3 linked regions of the Homo sapiens genome follow. The protein of the gene in region 1 purifies or fractionates together with the protein of each later gene. This does not show direct contact. Each region holds a gene or a part of one and is shown in the gene's direction. Other genes may lie near its edges.

Evidence for each region.
Region 2: the proteins of ZNF843 (region 1) and AMY2A purify together in Homo sapiens (affinity purification with mass spectrometry; one large-scale study listed by BioGRID and IntAct). This does not show direct contact.
Region 3: the proteins of ZNF843 (region 1) and AMY2B purify together in Homo sapiens (affinity purification with mass spectrometry; one large-scale study listed by BioGRID and IntAct). This does not show direct contact.

The regions. Positions count from the first base shown.
Region 1 is NC_000016.10:31,437,246-31,439,836, reverse strand, and holds part of ZNF843 (zinc finger protein 843), read left to right. Parts: intron 1-2,591.
Region 2 is NC_000001.11:103,616,172-103,620,346, forward strand, and holds the start of AMY2A (pancreatic alpha-amylase precursor), read left to right. Parts: upstream 1-1,255; 5' UTR 1,256-1,269; coding exon 1,270-1,437; intron 1,438-1,782; coding exon 1,783-1,929; intron 1,930-2,739; coding exon 2,740-2,937; intron 2,938-3,382; coding exon 3,383-3,613; intron 3,614-4,175.
Region 3 is NC_000001.11:103,577,194-103,580,079, forward strand, and holds the end of AMY2B (alpha-amylase 2B precursor), read left to right. Parts: intron 1-296; coding exon 297-415; intron 416-526; coding exon 527-652; intron 653-2,117; coding exon 2,118-2,307; 3' UTR 2,308-2,341; downstream 2,342-2,886.

The DNA.
Region 1 (2,591 bases):
TTTTTGGTGAATGTGTACACGGGCATAACCATCATCACATTCAGGGTGCAGAACTTTGCCGTCACCCTCTCATGCCCCGTGCAGTCAGCTGCTCTCTCCCTGACCCAGCCCCAGAGAACCACTGGTCTACTTTCTGCCCCTATGAGTAAGTTTTGCTTTTTGTAGAAATGGAATTTCACAGAAATTGAATCATATAGTATGTATTCTCTTGTGTCTGGCTTCTCTGGTTTAACATAATTTTGAGATTCATCCATTGCTTGCAGGTAACAGCAGTTCCTCTTTGTTGCTAGTATTCTGTTACATGGGTAAACCACACTTTATTCTTCCACCCATTGATGGACATTTGGATGTTTCTATCTTATGCCTATTATGAATAAAGCTGATATGCACATTTGTGAAAAAGTCTTTGTGTGGACATATGTTTTTATTTTCCTTGAGTAAATCCTAAGAGTAGAATTATTGAGTCATGTGGTAAGTGTACATTTAATTTACTGTTAACCAAAACTGGTTTCCAAAATGCCCAGGCCATTTTATATTTCCCCAGCAATGTGTGAGACTCCATATCCTCAGGCAACAGTTAGCACCTTCAGTCTGCTCGATTTTAGTGGGTGCATAAGGGCACTCCTTGTGGTTTTAATTTGCATTTCTCGGGTGACTGATGATAGCACATCACTTTTTTTGTATCATTATACTTTTAAGTTCTAGGGTACATGTGCACAACGTGCAGGTTTGTTACATATGTATACATGTGCCATGTTGGTGTGCTGCACCCATTAACTCGTCATTTACATTAGGTATATCTGCTAATGCTATCCCTCCCCCCTCCCCCCACCCCACAACAGGCCCCGGTGTGTGATGTCCCCCTTCCTGTGTCCATGTGTTCTCATTGTTCAATTCCCACCTATGAGTGGGAACATGCGGTGTTTATTTTTTTGTCCTTGGGATAGTTTGCTGAGAATGAGCACATCACTTTTAAATGGTAGCTCACTTCTAGGGAAGGAAGGAGAGCGATGAGTCAAAAGAAGTTCCACTGTTTTTGAGCTTAGGTGTCCAAGAGAATAAAACTGGTGCCACCAACAAAAGTGAAATTAGGAGTCAGTGATTTTTTGGCATAGGGGTATTAAATTTGAAGTGATGGCAGGATGTTAAGGGGGAAATAACTGGGTGGCAGCATGCTTTGCAGGCTTGGAGCTCAGTGGGAGGTCAGGTCCTGAGATAAGAGCCAAGTATCCGCTGAGAGGTGAAGCACAAACGGGGAGAGAGAGAGAGATGAGACCCAAGGATCAAGCCAGGGCTCAGAGTGGCCAGAAGCATCTGTTCCCCAGTCCCCATTTCCAAGTAATGGAAAATCCAGACTGACAGGCCTAATAGGCCTAAAAATAGATAAAATTAGCCCACTTATATATGAGCCACTGGAATACTTTCTAGTCCTATTGCAAACTCTACTCTTGGCTACTTTGATTGTTAAAATTGTAAATTAAAAGTTATCTATACCCTTTTTAAAAAAGAGTTTCAATATGGTTTGTGACAATCAGTTAATTATCTTTGTGGCCTGAGGGGCCCCCTTCTTTTAATCACCTTAACCAATAAAGCAATAATGTCTTTCTGAAGTTGATTCTTTTTGATGGTTTGTGTTTGGATGTTCAAGGTTAATGAGGAAATGATCCTTACCACGCTTTTGTAATTTTAATACAGACAGGGTCTTGCTTTGTTGCCCAGGTTAGTCTCCTGGGCTCAAGGATCCTCTGGCCTCAGCCTCCCAAAGTGCTAGGATTATAGGCATGAGCCACTGCGCCCAGCCTCTTGCTACACTTTCATTCAGGATAAAGATGGTAATATCCAAGACTACTGAAAGTCTTATAACCCCAATCCAAATTTTAAAATAAATCTTACTATTAAGAAGCATTGATTGGCCATGTGCAGTGGCTCACACCTGTAATCCCAGCACTTTGGGAGGCTAAGGTGGGTGGATCATGAGGTCAGGAGTTTGAGACCAGCCTGACCAACATGGTGAAATCCTGTCTCTACTAAAATACAAAAAAAAATTAGCCGGCAATGGTGGCAGGCGCCTGTAATCCCAGCTACTCGGGAGGCTGAGGCAGGAGAATCGCTTGAACCCGGGTGGCAGAGGTTGCAGTGAGCCGACATAGCTAGCACCACTGCACTCCAGCCTGGGTGACAGAGCAAGACTCCCTCTCAAAAAAAAAAAAAAAAAAACATTGATTATAGGAGGCCGGGCATGGTAGCTCATGCTTGCAATCCCAGCACTTTGGGTGGCCCAGGTGGGCCAACCGCTTGAGCCCAGGAGTTTGAGAGCAGCTTGGGCAACATGATAAAAACCAGCTTCTACCAAAAAAAAAAAAAAAAATGCTGGGCCTAGTGGTGTGCAACTACAGTCCCAGCTACTTGAGAGACTGAAGCGGGAGGATCACTTGAGCCAGAGAGGCAAAGGTTGCAGTGATCAGAGATCGTACTACTGCATTCCAGCCTGGGCAACAGAAATAGACCCTGTCTTAAAAAAAAAAAAAAAAAAAAAAAAGAAGGAAAGAAAAAGTAAAATAGTAATAAAGAAGCATTGATTACAGGATTCT
Region 2 (4,175 bases), on another chromosome or scaffold:
GAAGCTTGTATCTGACATTGTAGCAGGACGAGCCTCAGACAAAACCTCTCAGACACTGAGTTGTAGAAGGAAGGGCTTTATTCAGCTGGGAGCATCGGCCAGCTACTGTCTCAAAATCTGAGCTCCCGGAGTGCACAATTTCTGTCCTTTTTAAGGGCTCACAACACTAAAGATTTCACATGAAAGGGTCGTGATTGATTTGAGCAAGCAAGGGATACGTGACAAGGACTACATTCACTGCTGGTCAGGGAGAAACAGAACAGGGCAGGGAGTTTCACAGAGTTCTTTTATACAATGTCTGGAATCTGTGAATAATATCAGCTTCTAAATCATAAGTTGATTTTTAGCTACTGGGTTTAGGCCAATCAGGCCCAGGCCTGGTTTCAGGCCTGGCGCTGGGCTGCATGTCTTTGGTTGTACTTCCTGGTTGTTTTTACTGAATAGAAAACAATATAAAACAAGGAGAGGGTCTTTGTCTCCTCTCAATATCAGCACTGGATTGTAGAATGTGTTGCTGATTTTGACCTTGTATTCAAGTTAACTGTTGCCCTTGGTATCTGTACATATCTTTGATTTCAGTCTTTACTACACGTGGCTTGGTCACTTCATGGCTAAAAACATGCTTGTGGAAGACCAGTCTGGCTCGGTGAGTCTGTGCGGCCAGCAGTCTCTGATCTGTACAGGGTATTAATGTGTCAGGGCTGAGTGTTCTGGGATTTGTCTAGAGGCTGGTAAGGGCTTCTGGACCACTTGTTTCTGTCCTGTCAGTCTGTCAGGGTTGGAAAGTCCAAGCCATAGGACCCAGTTTCCTTTCTTAGCTTACGTTATCTACCAGAGCACCGTGGGCTGTTACTTACCTTGAGTTGGAAGGGGTTCGCATTTATACCTGTAAAAGTATTCATCCTTTTAATTTATGTAAAGTTTTTTTGTATGCCATTCTGGATCTTTAAAGAGATGACAACAAATTTTGGTTTTCTACTGTTATGTGAGAACATTAGGCCCCAGCAACAGGTCACTGTTTAAGGAAAAATAAAAGTGCTGCCAGAACCTAAGAAAAACATTAATATCTAAAAGGTCATTTAGATGATTTCCATGAGAGACTTTTTGATGTTCTTTACCTGTTAGGATTATTATTGATAATCCTTTTCAGATTATGAATAAACAGTTTGCCCTCAAGTATTTATTCATGCTAATATTTACTTTGTAAAATGTGCTTCTTACAGGAATATAAATAGTTTCTGGAAAGGACACTGACAACTTCAAAGCAAAATGAAGTTCTTTCTGTTGCTTTTCACCATTGGGTTCTGCTGGGCTCAGTATTCCCCAAATACACAACAAGGACGGACATCTATTGTTCATCTGTTTGAATGGCGATGGGTTGATATTGCTCTTGAATGTGAGCGATATTTAGCTCCGAAGGGATTTGGAGGGGTTCAGGTGGGTATGATTCATAGTATCAATTGCGGAATTCACTGTGCTTGTAGGAAATAGTATTCTGATCTTATCTGTGAAGCTTGGGCAACATTTTACTTCACAGGTAAGTATTCTAAGTAAAAGAGATTTCTGAGGGAAAATCTATGTAGTATTCTTGGCAACTTTATATTTTGTTTCTGAGATAATCTTTCTTCACCAAGAGCCCTCCAATGTGCTGTTAATATTTTCAAGAGATAGCTGCCTATACCAAGATTCAAGAATCTTTTATACTATTGATTAGTTTCTAGAACATTCAATGATACACAGTAAGACAGAATTTGGTACTTATGAAGACTGTTTAATTTGTAGGTCTCTCCACCAAATGAAAATGTTGCAATTTACAACCCTTTCAGACCTTGGTGGGAAAGATACCAACCAGTTAGCTATAAATTATGCACAAGATCTGGAAATGAAGATGAATTTAGAAACATGGTGACTAGATGTAACAATGTTGGGGTAAGTGAATTCTAGTTTCCTTTAAAAATAACAGACAGGAAAATGGTTTCTCTCTCTTCTTTCTTGCTCCTTTTCAGCAGAAAATTTTCCGTATTTTATTTTTTTAATTTTACTTCATAATTTAAAACTCAAAATTAACTGTTTATTTATGTTCAACTTTTGTGAATATTTGTGTGTGTGCTATCTACTAAAGAGGTAAGTTAAAGTTTAAATCAGAATTTGCTTCTAAAGCAAAACATCAAATTTTAACCCTTATAACTGTTCGTATTTCCCGGAAACAATTTACTGGTTAGGAAGTATAATTCCAGTTACAATGTTTGCTATCATTTTTAGGTGACTTGTGTCTCCATCCGTAATTCTTGGGTTTTTCATGGTGAATAGCTAGCTTCTCTATTTAATGAGGAGCATAAATTGAGATTAATAGCTACCTTGTTTGTCTTCAAAAGCTTCATAGAGAGTACAGGCTTTCTCCTGGTGACCCACTGAAATTTCCAAAACAATAACCTTTCCACTCTCATCTGAGTTTTGTCTTCCCAAAGTGGGCTTTTTGCATTTCCTCCTATTTATGGTAGTTTCTGGTCTCTCAATTTATCATTCCTATAAATATTTGACCAAGTGTCTAGAAGGCATGTAGGTGTTTAGTTCACATTACTTTCCTTTCACAGTTGATTTTTGATCTTGTAGGAAAATAATTATAAGATATCATGAAATATTTTGGAGTTTTATTAACATACTATAAACTTGCATCAATAATGCTTTAAATTTCTACCTCTCTGTAAGTCACACTGAAGTAGAAACTTTGTTTTCTAGGTTCGTATTTATGTGGATGCTGTAATTAATCATATGTGTGGTAACGCTGTGAGTGCAGGAACAAGCAGTACCTGTGGAAGTTACTTCAACCCTGGAAGTAGGGACTTTCCAGCAGTCCCATATTCTGGATGGGATTTCAATGATGGTAAATGTAAAACTGGAAGTGGAGATATCGAGAACTACAATGATGCTACTCAGGTAATTTTTTTACGAGAGTGATCTGAATAAAAGAGTAATATATGCCTTTTCTTGTAGACATGTAGCTAATTGAATTTCATTTAAAATAGGAATTTAGATCTCTTAGGGACAGAAGTTAACAAGTTTGACTACTTTAAGAAACTCAAATCCATATTTAAGAACTTTCAAATATTGATTTAAGATTTTTAATCAATACACATTTGCCCACTTCTAAGAAGTTCCCAATTAAAAATCTCATCGACTTTATTTCCTAAATTCTCTATTTTCTATTAGAAAATATTTCAAAGATACATCTGTAGTAGAATGTGAGCATCCCCAGTGCCCAATGCAAGGAAGTCACTATAGAATATCTCTTGAGGAATCATGGAATAAATGAATAATCCAATGGATTCTCAGGAGAAAAATGAGGTTTTATGAATCAATCATAACATTTTTACCTCAACAGGTCAGAGATTGTCGTCTGACTGGTCTTCTTGATCTTGCACTGGAGAAGGATTACGTGCGTTCTAAGATTGCCGAATATATGAACCATCTCATTGACATTGGTGTTGCAGGGTTCAGACTTGATGCTTCCAAGCACATGTGGCCTGGAGACATAAAGGCAATTTTGGACAAACTGCATAATCTAAACAGTAACTGGTTCCCTGCAGGAAGTAAACCTTTCATTTACCAGGAGGTACATCAATACTTATATGCCTATAAAATATCATCTTATTCGTTAGAAAATTAATGGAAGATTTAATTAAAAATGCAATTTCTGTAGGATAAGGAATGAGACATTTACATAAAACAGTGTTCTTTAACCTCCTCTTCTTCACATACAGCATATCTAATTCTTTATCACAACATGTTTTATGGAGGTACACAGAATGTAGGATACTGATAATAGTTATGTCTTTACTTTCTTTGGATAATGAAACAAGTTAATATTTATCAAGGAATTTCAGTCGATACTAAATGTTTTATTAGTGTGAGCTCTTATTATTATCATTGATGTAGAAGACTAAAAATTAGGTAAGTATTTTCACAGGACAACAGGTATCTTTGACATTATGCTTCTTTCAATATTGTAGCCTATACTTTATCAAATAAAAGAATATAAGAATATTACCTGTTGAGATAATAGGAATAAGAAAACCATTTTGCACATTTCGTGTAACAAACAGGACCAGGCATGGTGGCTCGTGCATGTAATCTCAGCACTTTGGGAGGCTGCGGCAGGGGGATTGCTTGAGGCC
Region 3 (2,886 bases), on another chromosome or scaffold:
TGCCACTGTACTCCAGCCTGGGTGACAGAGCAAAGAAGCCTTTGCAGTTCCTTGGAATGAAAAGGAGAGGATAACAATTTGTTACCTTTGTTTGAAATATGGCAAAAGAGAACCAGAGGATAGAGAGATGATGAAGACCCAGTAAAGGGCTATAAAAATTATTGAAGGCATTGGATTCTAGATAAAGTCATTGAATGCAGAGACACAAGTAACAGGATAGGTTGGGTTTGGTTTAAAGGAGAAGGAAGAGGTAAATATATGTATGTTAAAATTTGGCTTTTCACCCCCTAATTAAGGATGTTAATGATTGGGTTGGGCCACCAAATAATAATGGAGTAATTAAAGAAGTTACTATTAATCCAGACACTACTTGTGGCAATGACTGGGTCTGTGAACATCGATGGCGCCAAATAAGGTGAGAATATGTATTTAGACATGTCCTCTAATAGTAAACTTTCCATTGCATTTTATTTAAAACAGTTGAAGTTTAAGAATATCAACGTTTTATATGGTATTGTGTTTTTAGGAACATGGTTAATTTCCGCAATGTAGTGGATGGCCAGCCTTTTACAAACTGGTATGATAATGGGAGCAACCAAGTGGCTTTTGGGAGAGGAAACAGAGGATTCATTGTTTTCAACAATGATGACTGGTAAGTACATATCAATTAAAAATAATATTTTGTACCTGTATGCTCTTGGTTTATTCCTTTTTTTCTGTTCATTGACATTTATCATATCTGAAAAATCATGTAGTCAGTGGAGCAAGAAGACAATAGACATCAAAATTGGGCAGAAGTAAAAAGATGATGGCTGTTACTCCTTCATTCTCCTGTTTTATTAAGGGCTTTCTGTTGTAAGCAGAGTCCTTTCTGTGCACCCTTGCAATATCTTATGCATATATTGAATGCACATACATATGCTCACCTACACATGCCACAAAATACACAAAGTAGTTAATATGAGGATTGTGAAATCATTAAAAGAACATGTCTTATATTCCTGTTTTTTTAATCATGGAAAAATGCTGCCTGAGTACTAATATATCTTTATTTCTAACTCTTTTTCTCAATGACTGCTCTATGTAGTTTTTTGGTATACTTTCTTCACTTCTCTGTCTCCTTGTGACAAATAATATTTTTAAAGCATATGCATAAATAATATGTATCTTGTGGTTAATGATTGGCTTCAGGGGATTTGAGTTTTAGTTCCGAAACTTCTCATTATTGGCCTTTCATCTGTGATTCTTATATCCTTTACTGAAGTATAAATGATTCCCTAACCTATAGCTCAGAAGACCTCGTTGCAAACAGTTGAATTGTCTCTGTCCAAAGCCAACTGATACTCATACTTAGCTCATTCTAGTATAAATTATATTTCACTGATGAAAAATAAATAAATACATAAATACATAAATCTAGTTGATCTCTTTCCTGCCAAAAAAGCCCATGTCTAGTTCTTTAATTTCTTTCTTTTGTGGATGAAAATACCAAAATAAATTTTTGTGAGAAAGCTTTATATTTCAAACTATCACTTCTTCATAGAAATGCTAGATTGTTTCTATGTATGCCCCAAATTCTTTTTTACCTTATGGGGAAAAAAGGAGATTAAAAAAATAAAACCCTTTAAAAATTTTTTTTTAAATTATACTTTAAATTTTAGGGTACGGGGAGGGGGGAGGGATAGCATTGGGAGATATACCTAATGCTAGATGACGAGTTAGTGGGTGCAGCGCACCAGCATGGCACATGTATACTTATGTAACCCTTTAAATTTTTAAAAGTAATTTGTATTAAGTTCAGTTGAGAACAAATTTGATTTTAACAAGCTAGCACTTTTATCAAAGTGTGACCATTCCTGCCAATCTTCAGTGATATTCTTCAACTTTGATTTTTTGGTAATATTTTCACTACGGACCAGGGAACTGCTACATTTTCTGTAAGGTTACTTTTGGTCCTAGAAAGCTATTTACAACTACTAGGGAGGCATATGGGTTTTCTTCTTAATGAGACTTCACTGCTTAGGGTTCTACAACATAAAGTTATGCTGTTTAGTTGTGTTAGCCTGTATTCTTGATTTTCAGTGTATTGAAGTTAAATCTGAAATTTTATTTTACAGGACATTTTCTTTAACTTTGCAAACTGGTCTTCCTGCTGGCACATACTGTGATGTCATTTCTGGAGATAAAATTAATGGCAATTGCACAGGCATTAAAATCTACGTTTCTGACGATGGCAAAGCTCATTTTTCTATTAGTAACTCTGCTGAGGATCCATTTATTGCAATTCATGCTGAATCTAAATTATAAAATTTAAAATTAAATGCATATCCTCAAAACAATAGCCAAGTGTGTTTCTTTTCTTACATATACAGTAATACTTATATTTCATTAATTTTTAGTAAAAGCTCTAATTAGTAATCAACTTGTAAAATTCACAAAAAAACCAATAGTATTAAAATCCCACTTAATTGTTGAATAAGTGTAAGATAATAATAGTCAGCAAGTTGTTATGCTTTAGAAGACTGACTTTAACCTATTTAAGCTATGAACTCAGAAAAGCATCTCAACCAATATGTTTGTTGCCATTAGCATCATTTACCGAGCTGTGTACCTTTAATTTCTGCCATTCTATAATCCTTCCAAGGAGTGTTTTTATCAGTTAGTTAGGGATAGCTGGTTTAATGCTGATTCCCATGCAAAGTTAGCCCGGTTGTATGCTTTTTATAATATGCAAGTACTTCTGGTGTTAATAAGGTTAAAAAATAGAAGAAACCTAAATTATACAATCTACAGTTATCAGTTCTATTGAGCTCACTGGAATCTTCTCCTACTTTATAGACTTCCTTCTTTTTCATTTTTTTCCTAATTGCTTAGACTTGTTGTATA